3 linked regions of the Homo sapiens genome follow. The protein of the gene in region 3 interacts with the protein of the main gene of each other region in a biochemical or structural test. Each region holds a gene or a part of one and is shown on either strand. Other genes may lie near its edges.

The links. The genes of interacting proteins can lie anywhere in the genome.
Region 1: the proteins of NPY (region 3) and NPY1R form a complex in vitro, tested with the Homo sapiens proteins (one study listed by BioGRID).
Region 2: of the proteins of NPY (region 3) and MEP1A, one has a biochemical effect on the other in vitro, tested with the Homo sapiens proteins (one study listed by BioGRID).

Annotation. Positions count from the first base shown.
Region 1 is NC_000004.12:163,329,595-163,336,556, forward strand, and holds the start of NPY1R (neuropeptide Y receptor type 1), read right to left. Parts: upstream 3,003-6,962; 5' UTR 2,888-3,002; exon of another isoform or gene 1,106-2,887; intron 1-1,105. UniProt on the Homo sapiens protein: Receptor for neuropeptide Y and peptide YY. The rank order of affinity of this receptor for pancreatic polypeptides is NPY > [Pro-34] PYY, PYY and [Leu-31, Pro-34] NPY > NPY (2-36) > [Ile-31, Gln-34] PP and PYY (3-36) > PP > NPY free acid.
Region 2 is NC_000006.12:46,789,097-46,796,390, reverse strand, and holds the start of MEP1A (meprin A subunit alpha precursor), read right to left. Parts: upstream 3,003-7,294; 5' UTR 2,993-3,002; coding exon 2,924-2,992; coding exon of another isoform or gene 2,840-2,923; coding exon 2,815-2,839; intron 2,726-2,814; coding exon 2,675-2,725; intron 1-2,674.
Region 3 is NC_000007.14:24,287,166-24,292,370, forward strand, and holds the end of NPY (pro-neuropeptide Y preproprotein), read left to right. Parts: intron 1-2,333; coding exon 2,334-2,414; intron 2,415-4,497; coding exon 4,498-4,522; 3' UTR 4,523-4,697; downstream 4,698-5,205. UniProt on the Homo sapiens protein: NPY is implicated in the control of feeding and in secretion of gonadotrophin-release hormone.

The sequences.
Region 1 (6,962 bases), on a different chromosome or scaffold from region 3:
CGTCTCAAAAAAAAAAAAAGAAAGAGAAACTGGGATTTGGGGGAGCTGCAATTTATTACTTGACTGTAAAAGATGGCCTCTGACTGTCTGAGAAGAAGGCATGTAAGTTAAGACCTGAGAGGAGTGGTGAGTAGGGAAGCTATGCAAGTATCTCAGGGATTGCATCCCATATGGAAAGAACAAAAATCCCTAAGGCCCATGTGTAACTGGTGTGCTAAGTAGCAATAAGAAGTAGGATAAATAAGGGAGGGACTCTTAGGAAATTAATTAGGAAGGCTAAAGAGGGGGGTACAGACTGTAGAGCCTTTTTTTTTTATGGTCTGTGCCTATAATCCTGAGAGAGCTGGGGAGCCTCTGGAGAGTCTTTGGCAAAGGTGTGAAGTTTTATGACTTTTGATTTAAAATTACTATTCTCGCTGCTGTTTTCAACACACTCAAGGAAAGAGAAGAAATGGGGAGATTCATTAGAAAGCTAGTGCAATAATTTTGGCGAGAAATAATAGGGACAGAGACCAAGATGTATACCATGGAGAAAAAGAAACAGAAATATTCTATCCACTGACTGATTTTGGCAAAAATGAATACATATAAGAATTCACACAGACATTAAATTATTGCAAAGTACAGGCTACAAACATAGCTTTCTTACAGATGAGTTCAGGTAAACGTACTGAAGCTCTAGCCTGATACCTTTGAAATTGTATTTAATAGGCATGCCCAATGAGGAAGCATTTTTCTTACTAGGTAGAAGTTAATTTAGCTATAGAGAAAATGAAAAGTTTATTTTTTTAAGGTGTTTTCAAGCCTATTTTACTAAGTGCACATTTGATAGTTATTCCAGTTGTGTAAACCAATTCTGCATTGGATAAATGTGTATTTTCAGTTTACCTTAGTGTAATTTCAAGAAAGAATAACTGTCAGAAAATAACAATACTAAGAGAGAATTTACACACTTTATCTTTGCAAAAGAAAATAATTTGATATTTACTATTCTAATATAATTTGTAAAATAAGCTATGCAACTGCAGAAACTGCAAAAATTAAAGACTGTTAAATCTCAGTGTAGCTGCCATGTGCATATAGAGACAAAACAGACATTACATACATCACCAGTTGGCAAATTAGCCCCCTTGCAGAGGGAAATTTCCTCTTCTTTCTTTCCAATTAGAATGCTGGCCTTTCATTGCTTGCTCTTCGCAGTGCTGTTACTACTTGAAAATACAGCTCCCTGATCATAACCTGCTGCAGATACATTTTTTCAAATACTCAGGATTGGCTGGCTGTTCACCTCACTTGTGTTGGAAAAGAAATGTCAGCCTTGTTACATACAGCCTCCCAAAGTTACTGCTAGCTTATCTAAATGAATTACATAATTCTCTGCTCCTTCCTTGCTGGGGAGGGCTTGTTCAACAGACTGCTGCCTTAAGACAATAAAGACTAATAAAGTAGTAGTCACGGAAGAGCACTCGGTCTAGTCCTGGGTGGGGAACCTGGTCGGGTTAGCTTTCTGCTCCCTCGCTTGCTTCGCCAGAGAGCCGGCCCAGGGTCGAGAACAAACAGCTACTGCTTTTCTGTTCCAGACCTGACAGACAAGCTCCACATGTCCCCTGCCTGTGTGTGCCATCCCGCCCGTCATGCTTTCTCATAGGATGGGGAGTGGGGGAAGCAATGCGTGCTCTGTGTGTGTGTGAGTGTGAGTGTGTGTACATGGAAACACACTCTCTTTTGCTCCTCTCCCCTAGGTTTTTCCTGTGCTCCAGAAGTTATCAAACAACGAAATGGGAAATGGGACATGTTCAGTCAAAATTCCTGTTGGCACGCTTACCCACCCACCTTTTTCATATTGCGTAACTAGGTGAATCGCCCGAAATTTACTCCATTCCTGACTCCCTACTACACACACATACACACACTCTCACTCTCTCTCTCTCTCTCATCAAAAAACCTTTCTACCAGTGATAAGAGACTGGCAAAAGAGAAAAGATATAAACAACCAAAACCAAGCAGATCCCAAACCGAAGTCAATTCTCTCTCTTTGGCCCAACATCAGACCTTAAAACATTCTTATCTCTCCAGTCTACCTGGGAACCAATGGCACACCCTATCAAGACACCTCCACCTCCTGTCCATTCCCAATCTCCTAACCCAGCCACGTTCCATCATTACTTTTCTAAAAGAAAGAGCTAAAGAGTTCCCTGATTAGAACTCCGATGATTAAAAGCTTCGGGTGTCTATCGGGGCGCAGCGCCACACTCGAAGCGCCCGGTACTGCGGAGCGCGGCTCGATTGCAGCCGAGAAGCGCGGAACCCGCAAGTGGGGGTGGGCTTGCGCGCTGGGGTCCGCGCCGAGGGCTACTCCCACCTCCGCCAGCTCCCAGCCCGACACCTGCCGCGGGACCCGTGCGACGCTGGGCGACGCGCCAAGCCCACCCTTCTCCGGCTCATCCCAGCCAGTTACTCCGCGAAAACTCCGGTGCGGCCAGAGCCAGCGCCTCCAGCCAGCTCAAGACACGTAAGGAAAATGAGCGGGTGTGGGATAGGCGAACTCGGGCGCCTTCCCAGTGCCTCGGCCTTTTAAAGAGAACCGGGGTAAAGGAAAACTTGGATCCCCATCCAGAAATTCCCCGGGAGCAGGTGGTGGGAAAGCCCGAACTCCGCGTAGGGTACCCTCTCCTTTCACCCGCGTCGTCCCCATACCCTTCGGCAGGAGCCCGCGAACGGTCCGGTGATTTGGAGCAACCTGCGACCTGCCTGCACTGGAGACCCCACCTTGGTCCCCCAGAGCCAGTTTCGGACACTCGCATCGTTTTTCTTCCCCTCTCATCCTTCACCTTGTCAATGAGAGATTTCGCAGAAGTCTCTGGAAAGGCATAAACTCGCAACTTACCCTCTTTGGAATTTGTCTTTTTCGCTCCTGCTTATTAAAGAAGGAAGGGTGGGAATGGAAGGGAGCAGAGTGGGGAAGATCCGCTGGTATTTCTCCTGCTCAGATCCTAAAGATTGATGAAGCTAGGAAGAGACGCCTCCTTAAAGCCGAACTCCACCTCATCCCGGATCACGTGACGGCGTCCCGCGAGTAGCGCCTGAAGCTCCCCCAACCCCACAAACACCTCACAAAGGTGCACACCTCGGGGAAGCATTGCCTAGGAATTTTGGAAAGAAAAGCAATCCAACAGAAGCCACACATTATTCGACACAGACCTCCCGCGCAGGGGAAAGGAAGCCCTAATCCCCACAGTCCTCGACTCCGGGGAAGGCAGGGCAGTTTCCCGAGGCTTGAAAAAGTCGGTGCCACTGTGCTTTTCTTTGTTTGCAGGTCAGTGCCATCTTGTGGCCGAAGTCATACCCGGCTGGAGAGCTCGAGCGCCAGCCCAAACCAGGAATCAAAGGGCTCGCTGGGAAACATGAAATTCGCCACAATAATGGCACTAATATTTTCTTTTGCTTTCTTTTGTGACGCTCAAATAACTCTCACGCCAGTGCCGAGAATTTGTTTTCCTCACTTTATAAGTGAACAAAGAGAAGACCTTTAAAAAGTCAAAGCAGTCAATCGGCCCTCCTTTCTTTGGCCCACTGAGAAAATGCATTAAGTCAGATTTGTTCCCAGCGCTTAGCTGCTTTTTAGTTTTTTTAGGGGAGAACCATGAGCTGAATATTTCCCTGGTGGTCGAAAAGCGTCAATGCAATTTTCTCGGTGATTAGTACTACAGTACTGAACATTATGAAGAAAAAAATAGAATGTACACCGAGTACGTTGAAGGCGGCCAAACCCATCATGGTGCCCGATGATTCAGGCCAATTACTGGCACACTGATCTTAGATGTTTTACCTGATTCTATTCTAGTTTCAAAAGTCAAAGTTGTAAACACACACATACACACACACACACACAAATTATGTAGACGATGAACTGATGCAAATGAGTAGAACTTCTTCCAAATAAAATTGTTAAAAATAAGAAGTCTTTCTAATAAAGATACAGGGCACTGCCCAGAGAATTTATAAAGATTTCATTAGAAAACAATTCTAATGGCAGTCTTTCTTCTAATTAAAATCAAAATAAAATTCCAAGACAAGTGGACTCATCTGAACTTTATACTGTTAAAAAACGTTTTCTTTTTCTGATTGTTAGGCTGAATAAACATATTTAAGGTTCAGTATAAGCTCATTTATATAGATAGTGATGAACACAATCTCTGGATGTTTTTCCAAGAAAGCTTTCCAAAATATGTGTCACTAGACATATTTTTATATAGTTGGAAAGGCATTGTAATTAAGAATTAAAATGTCATGATTATGTAATGATTGTACTATTAGTGTATAACAACAGATATAAGCATACATATAAAAATCTCTAATGGTTAAGCAGAGTAAAATGACAACAGATTCATTTATACACACACACACATATACACACACATACTTTTTTTTTTAACCAAGGCACAATAATTTTTACCAAGGCACAATTTAGGAATTTCAACTCTTTCAGGGAAGAATAACTAATATTCATTCAGGTTTCTATGCATCCTCTGTCTACTCTATTGCCTTAAGTCACATTCTGTTCTTAGAAGGAAGTTTTCCCCATGGTTTTGATCATCAAATTGGCTATCTTTAGCCTGCTATAAGAATTACAAATGAAGTAATTTAATTCTCTACTAAGAATATATTTTTATGTAGAAACTATTATTATGTCAGCAAATATTTTGGACTTGAGAATATAATTTGGACTCAGGTACTATGCTTTCTCTATTTCCCAAGAATACTAATAAAGGCATGTCTGCCAGAGTTCTGAACTATTATGGCCATTGTATTTTATCATTTTATTAACTCAATTTTTATGAAGTGTTCTCCCTAAGGAAAATTTGTGAAACTGCATTCTTGAGTTATTAATGTCAGATACCAATCTTTGAAAGATCATTGGTCTCAAGGACTCTTTTCTATGACAACTTTATGATACAAAGAGAAGTTCTGAAATACTCAACAGTGGCTGGGGGCGGTGGCTCACGCCTGTAATCCCAGCACTTTTGGAGGCCTAGGCAGGTGGATCATGAGGTCAGGAGTTCGAGACCAGGCTGGCCAACATAGTGAAACCCCGTCTCTACTAAAAATACAAAAATTAGCCAGGTGTGGTGGTGCGCATCTGTAATCCCAGCTACTCAGGAGGCTGAGGCAGGAGAACTGCTTGAACCCAAGAGGCAGAGGTTGCAGTGAGCCGAGATCGCACGACTGCACTCCAGCCTGGGCAACAGAGCAAGACTCTGTTTTGGAAAAAAAAAAAAAAAAAAAAAGAAATGCTCAACAGCAAAATTATATAATTCTTTAGGAATACCATTTACTAGGATTCTTTCCAATGTGAAAAATAGAGAAATTAGACATGGTCCAATGGCCAAACACAACATAAAATTCTCCAATAATGTAATCTTATAGAAGATTTAAAATATGCAAAGTAGTTTGAATTTCTTAGAAAATACTTATTAAAGAGTTTCCTCATTCCAATTTTAAGATCATATATTTTTCTACTCTTCAGTGAATAATCAGCTGCCTACTTTCCTATCTGGGATTCAAACTAGATAAAACTTCATCTTTGCTAGGGAGAATTTTTTCTTTATTTCTGTGTATTTCTTTCTGTAGTTTCATAACAGCCTGACCTATAAACCAAGGGGAATTATGTTAATGACCTAATCTCATGCTCTCTTGAACAACAGTCTTGCTCTGTGATATAAACTGAGGGATAGGATCTACTCATTAAATTTCTGTAAATCTAAGTTTTGTATTCTAAACAATGGAACAAACTTATGGCCTGGCTCAGCCTTTAAATTCCATGATTCAGTAACTGCTTAAATAAAAGTGTGACAGTATGCTTGCTACTGGAATTGAAACACACTAATTACTAGTCTTCTGAGGAATTTCTGCTACAAGAGTTAAAGTTTCTGAAATGCTATCAGGCCTTGATACAGGTAAATTACCATGAATTGTCACTCAGAAGAAACTTAATAGGCATTAATACTACACGAGAAAACTGAAATGTATATGACATTGATAAGGGGGTAATTCCATGGGGGTAGAACTATGATGAAGCACGTCAGTGAATCAGTTCATATTCTATGAATTGATTTTGTGTCAGGATTTTCCTTCTTTCTGTGACTTACCTGCTGCATTTCTTTGGATCTTTGACGCCCAAGAATGTAAAGCACAATTTTATTTTATGGACCACCAAGAAAAAAATGCTTTCAGTAAAGCAATGGCATACCATCAATAGCAAATGAATATTAAAATATTAAAATGCTTTTTAAGCCCACATTTTAAAGCCAATGAAATATAGTTGGTAAAGAGTTTTGACTTAATCAGCACAATCAAATAGTCAGTACAATCATTTTATTCATCTGACTTTTGGAGAGCATTAACTAGCAGAAAAAAAGTGATGATTAATTTAGTTAAAAATGTGAGTATACAAGTGCACAGACAATTCAATGATCTCCTTTGTGCAGAAAACACACAATACTATTTGTGGATTTTCTCTTGATCTTGATTTGAAATGTGAATGCCTTTCAGTAAAGTTCTCATTTTGTTACATGGGCTGCATATTTCGGGGCATTTTTAAAAACTCTGTCACAATAAGGCTCTAGACAAGTAGGATCTTAAAATTTAGTAAATAGCCAAATCTTTTTCTGCATGCCTTATACTTTCAGATACCCTTTAGACATTCAAAAAAAAGTGTAATGTTATATTACAAAACCATAACATTATGTTTTTACTATATGATATAATGAAAGGAGCTTTGCCACTGTTACTATTACTGTTTTTAATAATTATTATTACTATTCCCTTCATATATTCTTTTGAAGAGACAAAATAAAAATAGCTGGCAAAAAGAATAAGTATGAATGCCACCACAACAGCTCTCATCATCTGTGACAAACATCTCTACTTGGTCGTCTTGCCCCTGACTCCCGCTCCCCAAA
Region 2 (7,294 bases), on a different chromosome or scaffold from region 3:
CCCACAGGAGGTGGCATTTTAGCAGAAATATGATAGAGTGAGGGAATGAAGGAAGAGTAGGGGAGGTAGAGGCAACACCAGATAGAAAGGTCCTGTGACAGGAAAGCCTTGATGTCTTAGGGCAGTGGTCCTAAACTTGAGCATCAGAGTCCCTTGGAAGGCTTGGTCAACACCCGTTGATGAGCCCCCACCGTTGGATTTCTGGTCCATTAAGTCTGGGGTGAGGCCTGAGAATGTTCATTCCTAACAAGTTTCCTGGTGATGCCGATGCTGCTGGCTTGGGGACAACACATCGAAAATCACTTCCTTAGAGGAGTAGCTGTGCAGTCAGGGTGGCTGGAAAGCTCAAGTAGGAAGGGGAAGAGTAGTCAGGGGCAGATTGACTCACACTCTGATGTGCATAGAAACCACTTGGGTCTGTCAAAATGAAGATGCTAATTCTGTAGGTCTGGGGTGGATCCTCAAATGCTGCATTTCTAAGAGAAAGCTCTTGAGTGACACAGATCACTTTGGCCTGTGGACCACACTTTGGGAATCAAGGCTCTAGGGCCTTTACTTTATGTTGAAGGAGAAGTCATTAGATGGTTGGAGCAGAGAAATGACATGATCTGAAGGATATTAAAAGGAGAGCTCTATGTTGTGCAGAATAGTCTTTAGGGAGCAAAGGCAGAAAGGGAAGCACAGTTATGAGGCCTGTCAAAGGACCAGCCCAGACATGAGGTGGCTGACCAAGGTAGGGGCAGTAAAAGTGCTGAAAAGTCTCAACTGTAGTATGATTTGAAAGTAGATCTAGGCCAGGCGTGGTGGCTCATGCCTGTAATCTCAGCACTTTGGGAGGCTAAGGTGGGCGGATCACAAGGTCTTGAGTTCAAGACCAGCCTAGCCAACATAGAGAAACCCCATCTCTACTAAAAATAGAAAAACTAGCCTGGCATGGTGGTGGGCACCTATAATCCCAGCTACTCGGGAGGCTGAGGCAGGAGACTCGCTTGAACCCAGGAGGCGGAGGTTGCAGTGAGCCGAGATGGCACCACTGCACTCGAGCCTGGGTGACATAGCAACACTCCATCTCAGGAGAAAAGAAAAGAAAAGAGAAAAAAGAAAAGTAGATCGAGTAGATCGAATAACATTTGCTGACAGATTGTGTGTCAGGTGTGAGAGAAAAGCAAGAGTTAGGGGCAACTCTAACATTCTGAGCCGAAAATCTAGAAGGAGTGAGTCACATTTACTGAAATGAAAAGGACTGAGAGGAGCAGGTCTTGGGATGGAGGATAAGAAACGTTTACTCAGCCTTGTGAGGCAAAAAGAAGATGGTAAAAAGGTGGCAATTTTCTCTATATGATTTTCCCAATTTATGGTGTTAGAATCTGGCCATATGGCTAACCCAATCAATCCTGGTGGTTTGGTTGAAATGGCCTAAAAAGAAGATTTACATGGTAATGAGATTTCTCCACTGGGGTCAAGGATCAGAGGTGGTGGTGGGCCTAAAGAGTACAAAATGGCAAAGAGGTAAATAATTAATTTTTATTAGATAAATAATGATGAGATTAGAAAAACTCTAATTCTAATCCCATTTCTGTTGTAAAATACAGCAGATTCTCTGAACTGTTTACACAATGGCTAACTCTAAAGAGAGATATTTTAGTGCCTGGCTCTGAAGTCTTGGGACCCATTTATGCATTCACCCATTTACCTTCCTAAACTATTTCTGCTCTGCCTATGCAGCCATTCTCCAGCTATTCCAATTAAATATCAACTAACTGGCTTCTCTGTGAGTGAGACAAAGCCAGAAAAATTGACCCTTAGTTATTGGTATGTTAGTTTTGTAGCCTTCAGATAGCACTGAGCTATTAAGGTATGGGCTACAAGATCTGGAAGTAAGCCCCATCACTGCTACCTATGATCTTGAGCAAGTCACTCTACCCATGAGAAGCCACCTGTCGCTTCCCAAAAAAATGAAAACAGCACTTACTCCACGACAAGACTGGACAAATAAATATGCAATTGCATATAAAAGCTTTTGTAAACTGAAGGTACTTATTATCATGAATAGCTCTGCTTCCACAAATCCTGACCTAAGACACTGGGAATGCAGAGGCTTCTCTCTCATTTCAGAAGCAGGACAACAGAGAGAAAACAGAGATGATGACTCAGCTTCTCTCTCCTCTCAGTAATGGATGAGACTGATGAATTTCTTCAAGAAATATATTTGTAAATGAGATGTCTAAGTGGAGATTGCTTTACACTCACCCCTAAGTCTCAACCGAGGAGTTGTTAGTGAATATGATGGGCCAGTGGAGGGGTTGGGTTTTGTTTCCCCACTAAATATAACCAGAGGCTTATTCTTATATTTTTCTTTAACAATCGGAATAATTATCTATTTGCTTTCCTTTTCCTCCAAATACAAATTGGAAAAATAAAATTTTTATAAAGAGAAACTTGTTACATATTTCTAGATCCATTGAGGACTTCCTAGCTCTCCTAGAAAGTCTGGTCTAACTATCTTCTCTTTCCGCATTTTTATCTTTCAGAAAATGCAATTTCTCACAAAGCACCAAAAAATATTTCTCCCCCAGAGAATCACAATACAGTATTAGGAAGGAAAGTGTTCAGTAATCCCACCACTGGGTTTCAAGTAATTTCAAGACTTTAATAACACAAAAATTGAACTCACCTAAATTGATTTCTGAAATATCCTTCTGTTCACCAAAATCTGCATCATGTACTGTTAAAAGTGAGAAAAAAAATTATTATTAGTCTTGCCGAAGGAAAAAAGTTCAAAAACACTCTCTGTGCATTTGAACTAATTCTTACCATTTTCTTCAGGAAGATACTTAATCTGAAAAAAATAAATATACAGAAAATGGATAATGTATACTAGAATTAATATTTCTAAATATCCAAAAAGCAGGACTCGACTTACCGGTACAGCTGCTATGTGGGCAAAAAGCAAGGTAAAAAAGAGAATGCAAGTGGATCTAATCCAAGCCATTGCTGCAAGTGAGCTGATTTTAGCACACACCTTGTCATAAATACCGTTTAGACTTTACCCTGACGGTCGTATTAGAAACTTTGACCCTTCCATATGTACCGTAGTGCCAATAAAGGTTGTCAAAGATAACATCATTGACTCTTTCGAGGACAAACACTAAGTTTACCTTAAATGCTTAAGCTCCAAAGACTGGGGAAAAGTTTGAAAAATTAATACGGAAATGAGCATATAAGAACTAATAACATTCCTATAGGGCAGCCATAGCCATTCATATCATAAAACAGGATAGACGATCCCCTTAACAATAAAAATAAAAATAATTTATAAAATTATTATTATTTAATTCTAATAAAATATAAATTCAAATTTTATGGAAATGTTATAAAGCAATTATTGAAGGACATAAAAATACCTGACTCTCTCTCTATATGTACATATGTATGAAATATTAATAGATTGTTTTAATATTAATCTATAAATTCATTGTCATTCTAGTAAAAAATCTAACAGGGTTTTCAGTGGAACTTGCCAAGCTGACAAATGGTTCAATTCGCATGAAAGAGTAAACATTGAAGAATAGATAAGAAAATTCTGAAAAGGCTGAATAAAGAGAAAAGAATTGCCTCAAAAGAATATCAGGAGCTTTGGTAAAGTTACAGTAATTAGAGTGTAATAGTTCCAAAAATAAAGATAAAATGAATCTATAGACTGGAATAGGTAATATCCAAATAGATGCAAGCATATGCAGGGCTTTTATGTATAAGAGGAACCAAAAAGGCAAGAGGGAAACTTGGGTCTCTTTCATAATAATGTGGGAATAATTGCATTTCCATATGAGGAAATACATTAAATGTACACCTGATACCATTGACAAAAATAAATTCTAGATAGATTAAAAATTTAAATATGAAAATATAAACTTCAAAAAAGAAAATATAGGAACATATTTTTAACCTTTAGGTCAAGAAAGATTGCTTAAACATGAAAAAAACATAGAAATTACAGAGGAAAAGAATAATACATTTGACTGTATCAAAATTTAAACTTCTTTATGACAAAAACATAACATGATTAAAAGACAAGCCACAGGTGAGAGATGATATGTATACTGCATATAATTGAATAAGAATAAGTATTCAGGATATGTAAAGAATTTCTACAAATCAATAAAAAGAACAGGAGATTATCTAAGGAAAAAATGAACAAAAAATATGAGTAGCAAATTCACAAAAGACCCAGATGGCCAATAAATATGTAAAAAGATTTTTAGCCTCGTAAGTAATCAGAAAAATTATAGGTTCAAATAGCAGTAAAATACCACCTCAAGCTAAGATTGGCATAAATTAAGAAGACTGACAATATCAAGTGTCAACAAGAAGGTAAGAAAATAGGAAATCTAGTAGGACATCAATTTGATGCTATCTAATGAAGTTGAAATGTGCACAGTTCATAAGATAGAAACTTCACTTCTAGGTCTATATGCTAAAGGAACTCACACATATGTGCACAAAATTCCACATAGCATATTCATTGAAGTTTTTTTGTTATGGTAAAGAATGGGGAAAATGTGTTTATACTAAAAGAAAAGATAAATTATGGAATATATTCAGCCATGCACAGGTAAATGTTTAATAATCGGCTCTTTTAAAAAAAGTAAAAACAAACAAGCAAACAAACAAAACCAAGCCTTTATTTGTAGTGTTTGTTGATTGCCATGGTCAATTTCAAGCTACCAACACCATGTCACTGAATGCAGTGTTGGGAAGAGATGTACACAGTGGGCTCCATCTGCGCCAGCACAATACTAAATATATGCACACACCCACCTATTCTTGCCTGCACCAGATATAAGAATCTTTGGCATTAGAGCAATCTTCAAGGTCTAGAGCCTGCATCTCTCTACCTCAGACTTACTACTGGGCAGGTGGGCTAGTCCTGCTGTCAAAAAAGCATTTCCTGTCACAAAAGACTTTTAGAAGGTGAACAGTAGAGCTTCTTGAGCTGTAAAATAGGAGGCATGTCAACTGGGGGCCTGCTTCTGATGGGCAGAAGCGTTCTATGGCTGATTTTTGTTTTACCTAAGCCACTGATGGTGAGGTGATAAAAGGCCATCTTCCACCGTCTCTAACCATTACAAACCACTAATATTATTTTTTAAACGAAACAAAACAAAACAAAAAGCCAAATTTGCCCAACAGCCGCAATGACTTAAGTGAGCAACTACAATCTAGACCATTTAAAAATTGGGCAATAATCAAATTTTAAAACTGGCCAACATCGTAAGAATAATTGGCTTTAAGTATCAGTGTGGAAAACATATGAGACTTTTATTTCTTAAATGTGTTGTTTAATTTTTCTCAAATTCTGAAGCAATTATGGTAAAACTGAATATTTGGTAAAACTGAATATTTGTTAATCTTGGAAACCAGGAAGTAGGAGTTTGTTATTTTATTTTCTAAAGAAAAAGGCAGTGCTGTTGCTTTGGTACACCTCTCTACTAAATCTCAGGTATCAGGATTTCAAACAGGGAATAGTGAGGCTGTTTAATTCTCTCCACCTTCTCTTGCTTCCAGCCAGATGTGTTTTTATCTTTCCCTGCCTTCTTAAACTTATCTGAATGATATACTACAACAATGGCTTTGGAATCAGATAAGCAGGAACTCCACCTCTACCATTGACTAGCTACAGTAATTTTAGTACCTGCTTTTTATGTGTAGAATGGATAGTGGTGCCTACTTCATGGGGCCAATGTAAAGATTCAATGAGATAACATATGTAAACCACAGCTACTAGAAACATAGGAAGCACTCAATAAACTGCTCCTTCTACCTGCTAGTTAGCAACTGCCTCCTAGCAAAACATGGGCACTAAAAACACAGCTCAGCCCACTCCTTGCTCAGTAGAATCTCCAGTGATGAGAACATAGGTCTTCAGCAGACACAACTTGCCCCCAATTATTTTATTGTCACAATCTTAATGGCAGATGTTAATTAGTTACCAGCTATTTGCAATCCTAGTCACTTCTTCATTGTGTCAGGGTATCAAATGAGTAAGGCTGGGGCCTTAAGTCCTTCATTTGAAGGGTTTATGGCTTTTCAGTTTAAAGAAGATTATGCACTCTGTGGTCAAGGTCCATGCTTTATTTCCTGTATTTGCCCCAGTGTTTGGAAACATAGTAGGTAATTAGTTCTCATTTTAACTGAAAAAAGTAAATAGAAATTTCTCTGAAGGTATCGGATGGGGTGACTTGCTTTGATCTCAGGAAGGGCATTTCATAAACTGACCAGTTGAGAAAGTGGTCTGAAGCTTAGAGGAAGAAAGCCATTGACAGGTAGAAAATGGAAAAACCCGCCCCCAGCTATTTCCACACACTCTCCAGCTTCATAAAAGCTCAGGCAAGGAGTTGGGCTAAGAGACTTGCAAAGTCCTCTCACCCCAAACCCTTCTCAAGGATGTTCTCTGCCCTCTTTCTACTCTATTGCAAGATGCTGATTCCTTCTGCTTCACTCACAGAGTTCTGCCTTCAACCAGCTGTCAGCTAACCTGAAACACAACAGTCCTTGTTCCTCCCAGGGCAATCAACATATTAACAGGGGCCCAAAGGTGTATAGAGCAAGAGTCGGCAAACTGTCTGTAAAGGGCAAAGAGATATATGTCAAGCATTGTGGGCCATATGAGCCCTGTTGTAGCTATGTAACTCTCCTGTTGTATGTAGCATAAAGTAGCTGTAGACAATAATGTAAAGGTGTGAACATGGCTGTGTTCCAATAAAACTTTATTCACAAAAACAAAGCAAAGGGTCATAGTTTGCTGACCCCTGGGTTTTAGAGAATAACCCTCAAGGTGGTGGAAATTGAGACGGTGATAATAATTATAACAGAAGCAGTAGCAGCAACCAACATGTACATAGTACTTACTGTGGGCCAGGCAGTATTCCAAGTATCTAAGGGTAATTATCCATTCAATCCTCACAACAATCCTACGAAGAAGCAACTATTATTATCTCCATTTTATATATTAAGAAACTGAGATGAAGAAAAATTAAGGAACCTTCTCAAGGTCATGCAGATCCTGAACAATGCTCCTAAATTCCACCTGAGAGGCAGTTCTTTACACCTATGTCTGGCCTTTGACAGCCCAGGAGTGAGGCCTCCACCATTATGCTGTAGCATGCAGACCCCTGGTTTCACAGGGTTCCATCTCTAACAGTTTACTAAGAAGAATTAACCCTGAGGGAAACAGTTCCCAAGCTATAGATTCCTTCAAAATCCTCTGGATGGTTTGTTGAGGTACAAATTTCTT
Region 3 (5,205 bases):
ATGTTTGATGAGAAAAAAACATAAAGGAAAGGGACTTGGGTTTCATGGCAAGAGATTCAGCTTAGATGGGAATGAGCTGGTCTCTGAGGCAGAGTTTCCTGTCTCATCTTTGTATAAACTCCTTCTTAGAAACCAGCAGAGGCTCTTAATGTACGTCCATCTTCTCCTTCCCACCACAGACACCCACTCCTATGTGCGTTTCTGAAAATTACAGGGTCATTTGTGGATGTGCTTTAATTTAGTATAGATATAATCTGATATCATTATCTTTCTTTCCCCCCGCCCCCCGCCACCAGCATTCCCCCTGCACTCAATTTGTGCTTATATTCCTTTTGCTGTATATATACCCCTGGCTCATTGCTTCTGGAAGCTGCATTACTTATTCTAGAGTGTGGGTCTCCTACAATTTATTTATATAGCCCCCTAAATCAGTGGTTCTCAACTGGGGGTGATTTTATGCTCCCCAGGTGTGATTTGGCAGTGTCTGGAGACATTTTTGGTTTTCACAACTGGAGGTGGGCACTGCTGGTACCTAGGTGTATAGATGCCAAGGAGGCTGCTAAATATCCTACCATGCCCAGGACAGCCCCCATTACACAGAATAGCCAGTCCCAGAGAAACTCAGCCTTAGATTAGTGTTTCTCCTTCCTGGCTGCACATTAAAATTATCAGGGGAGCTTTTAAAATACACTGATGCTGGGATCCACCCCTGACCAATTAAATCAGACCCTCTGGGATGGGGCCTGGGCTTTAGAGTGTGTTTTTAACACTCCCCAGGTGATTCTAATGTGCAGCCAGGTTTGAGAATCTTTACTCTAAGGACTCAATCTTTGAAAGTTACAGCATTGTAGAGGGGAAGGATGATCCAGAATTAATTAAAGAAGGAAGAAGAGTGAACAGTACTGAACTGGATGCAAGATTATGACTGTGCAAATCCTCCTATTTCAGATTTAGGTTCTTTACTGGTAAATTGGATAAAAAGTTGGCAGTTCTTTTACTCACTGGAGCATGATGAAGATAAATGAGTTACAGTTGCCCTAGACTTTTACGATTAGTAAAACCAATGGATGGACAGAATAAATAAGTATAAGCAGACACCTATAGTCTAATATCGCAACTCCAGAAAATCTTTGAGAAAATCTCACACATGATGGGAGTGGGACAGGGAGTTGTTTTGTTTTTGCTTCCCTTGAGTCTCAGCAAAAGAACAGTCATAGAAAATATTTCCAAAAAATTTAGATATAATTTTGCTTGGCAATTAGAATATACCCTCTGTCAGCTTTGTTCAGTTGTTGGACCTATTAACCAATCCATACCAGACTAATTTATTTCTAAACAAAGTGGCGAATGGTGTCCAATGCCTTTTCTGAGAAAGAGAAAAATGGCCTCTTCAAAAGACGCAATTTGGTATAGACTTGTCTGGCCGTTTTGTAGTGTTCTGGAGTGGGGAGCATATACTACCCTCACAGGTAAACGAAACCTTACCTGTATGTATTGTCTCACCCATATCCTGCTACAGGAGAAAAAAAAAAAAAAAAAAAAAAGAACATTTCCATGGATCAGTTAGATTCCTTTAGACTTACAGGGAGGCTAAAATCACAGCATTAGGAAAGACTTTAGCATTTGGCACCTTGAATGAATATGGAAAATATAAGACCCAGGGTCTGTTGGTAGCCAGAAGAATGGATGCATTTCAACAGCAGTAATTTGCATGCGTGTATCACTTTGTCACTTTGAAAGCATTGTGACTCACATTTCACACTGGATGTTCACAAAGACTCTGATTTAAGCAGGGGTTGTTTTACAAACGAGAAAATTGGGATTCAAAGACACAGGTGGGTCTTGGACGGCAATCTGCTGATTTTTTTTTTCTAGGACTGTCTTTGAAATATCATCTGGTCTCCTTGTTAAGATTTAAACTGCTGTGTATCATCAGAACAATAGCCAATTAACTAATTGTGGAAACATTTACAATCATGCTTCCATGTTTTCAAATTTCCTGTCACCTAGTTATAAAAGTATGTATCTCTATACATATTATTTGTGGTTGTTTAAGAAGGCAGGAATTTGACTAGGAATTTTGGTTCGGTTTAAATAACCTCCTAGATTATTTATTATTTGAGCAAAGTTTAAATATATATACAAATAATTTGAAATAATATTTATGATAATGTTTCGATAATATATGCTTCATACACCTAGCTTGCTTGTTACAGATGAACACCTGACAATAATGTTTAGTTTTCATATCCCAAATAGGAGACTATCTTCCTTTTTCCTAAAGGTTTTTATGCCTATTCCAAACTTGCTTTAAAAGACTTTTTTTTTTCCAGATATGGAAAACGATCCAGCCCAGAGACACTGATTTCAGACCTCTTGATGAGAGAAAGCACAGAAAATGTTCCCAGAACTCGGTATGACAAGGCTTGTGATGGGGACATTGTTGCAGAGCTCAAGGTGCCCAGGGGAGGGAAGTCAGAGACAGGTGCCTGGTGGGAGGCACCACCAGGCTTCTAGACTAGGGGAGATTTCGGCAGAAATGAGGATGAAGAAGCAGGCAGAGGAGACCTCTCTTTTCATGTACTCATTGTCAAATCTCTAAACTTCTGTGGAATAACATTTTTTTAGCTCAGGTTATTTGGTGCTCCTTTGACGATTTTAAAAATAATTGACTTTTAACTTAGAAATTATATAGAATTTCTAACATTGTTGGAGTCAGGGGAGCATAGAGTGAGTCCCTGACTCTAAATTGAAATGACCAACTGTCCATCTCTGGCTGGGAAGATCTGTAGATTTTATATATGTGGAGTGTCCAGATGTCCTAGGAAATGTCCCATGTGGTTTTTACTCCAACTTTCCCAGTTTTACATGAAGCTGTAGGTAAATTAGGTGCTCTGGATTACTTTTTGACATATTTTAATTCAACTTGTGTCATATAGTGATTTATTACATTCAACGAATGCACGTTGAATGACAGTATTCTTAGGAGTTTATCTGTAGTCTCAGGACTTTCTTGCAGTTTGGGTCTGTCTTGGAAAGAGGTGCCCACCAATGTCTAAGTGTTAAACATTGAGCTAAGGTTTTCTGGTGCCTCCTGGACAAGGAGTGCTGCTGAAGAGGAGCCTGGTCCTCTTCCATCTTCATAACCTCCTGACTCTTCAGTCCTTGCTTCCTGTCTCTAACCACAGTAAGATCATAGTTCACAGGGTCCACCCACGTCTGTGGCAGCTTGGCTGCCTTAAACCAAGTTCTACAATGTCAAGAACCAAGTTCCCCAGAAGAGGTCACTACAACACTTGCTCAGTGAGTGTGACTGACGTGGCTCTCCATCAAGTTCTCCCTAGAGACTCAGCAGGGTGACCCGCTGGGCCACCCACCTTCCCTTCTAACCTCCCTCAGTTCTCTTCTAAAATGGCCAGCCAGCATGAAGGGTGTTAGTATAGAGTTGTGAGATTTGTTTTCTCTAAAGGGAACAACGATTTGAACTGAGATAAAACTCCAGTGCTCCTGTCCCTGGAGGAACCAGCCCAGACTTAAATAGCAAATGCAAGGGAAACAGGCAGAAAATTTGTAAGGGTTATCTTTTTTTAATTAAATAATAATAATAATAATTATTATTATTATTCAGAGACAAGGTCTCCTTCTGTCACTCAGGCCAGAGCACAGTGGTGCAATCAAAGATCACTGCAGCCTCGAGCTCCCAGCCTCAAGAGATCCTCCCTCCTCAGCCTGCCCAAGTGCTAGGATTACAGTTGTGAGCCATAATGCCTGGCCAGGGTTGTCTTTAACACTAAGCAGTAAATGTCTTTCCATGTTTCACTGACATGCATATGATGTTTGCCACAGTAAAAAGTTTAGGGTAGACTATATCGACTTACTGTTAGAAAAATAACAACGCAGACCTACTTAGAACCTTGGTTTTTGTCTTTGTTTTGTGGCCCAAGGTCACACAGTTAGTGCATGAAGTAAAATTAATTGCAACCTGATTGACAGACTCCATCAGGTGCAGTTAGAAGGAGACAAAACTTGACGGTCTTGAAGTTGCCTATGAGTGCTATTTTATTATAAAGGTCTTATTATAGTCTAATAAGTAGCATCTTACTACATAATAAAGCTGGCAGGAAAAGGAAGCATATTTAGAGTTGAGGAACAATAACTTTCCTGTCACAGCTTCATGTGATTTCTGTAATTTTGATTTTCAAAAGATCGGGGTGTTCTTCGGCTCCTTTGATACATACAGAGCCTTTCAAATGCTCTCTCTGATGTTTGCCCAAGACGCCTGTCAACATCGTGGAATGCTGCTCAGCTGGGGCTGTGCATATTGTGCCTCCGCCTCACGATCTGATATTCCACATGGCTTCTTATTTAGAATGCCAACAGGAAACTTTTCAACAGTTCCCGGTCATCTTTCACTTCAGATCTAAATGTCTCACCCTTGCTCATACCTCAGGAAGTTGGGCAGCTTTCCTTACATGCTTTGCTTCTTATGTTTTACAGGCTTGAAGACCCTGCAATGTGGTGATGGGAAATGAGACTTGCTCTCTGGCCTTTTCCTATTTTCAGCCCATATTTCATCGTGTAAAACGAGAATCCACCCATCCTACCAATGCATGCAGCCACTGTGCTGAATTCTGCAATGTTTTCCTTTGTCATCATTGTATATATGTGTGTTTAAATAAAGTATCATGCATTCAAAAGTGTATCCTCCTCAATGAAAAATCTATTACAATAGTGAGGATTATTTTCGTTAAACTTATTATTAACAATTAGTCATTATAGTCTCCCTCAACTAGCAGATTCAGGGTTCGTTTCGCTAATATTAAAACAGCGGCTATGAAAGATATGAAGATATGATTATTCATGATAACCAAGATCAGCTGTGTGGTGTGTGTGTATGTGTGTAAAACATATAGATGCATTTGAAGATATTGATCAAAGGAATGCTAATTTGGGAAATTTTTCTGAGCTTTCCCCCCATTAACATTGGAACCCTTTTGCTAACCTTGTTAACCAGTGCTGTCAGCAGAAGAACTTCCTGACTAACTAGAGCTTTCTGTGGAATGTCCTTTATCCCTCTGTCTAATATGGCAGCCACTAGCCACATGTGGTTTTTGAGCCCCTGAATGTAGTAAGTGCAAATAAAGAGATGAGTTTTAAATTTTATTTAATTTTAATGAATTTTAACTTAAATGGCCATTAAGTCTC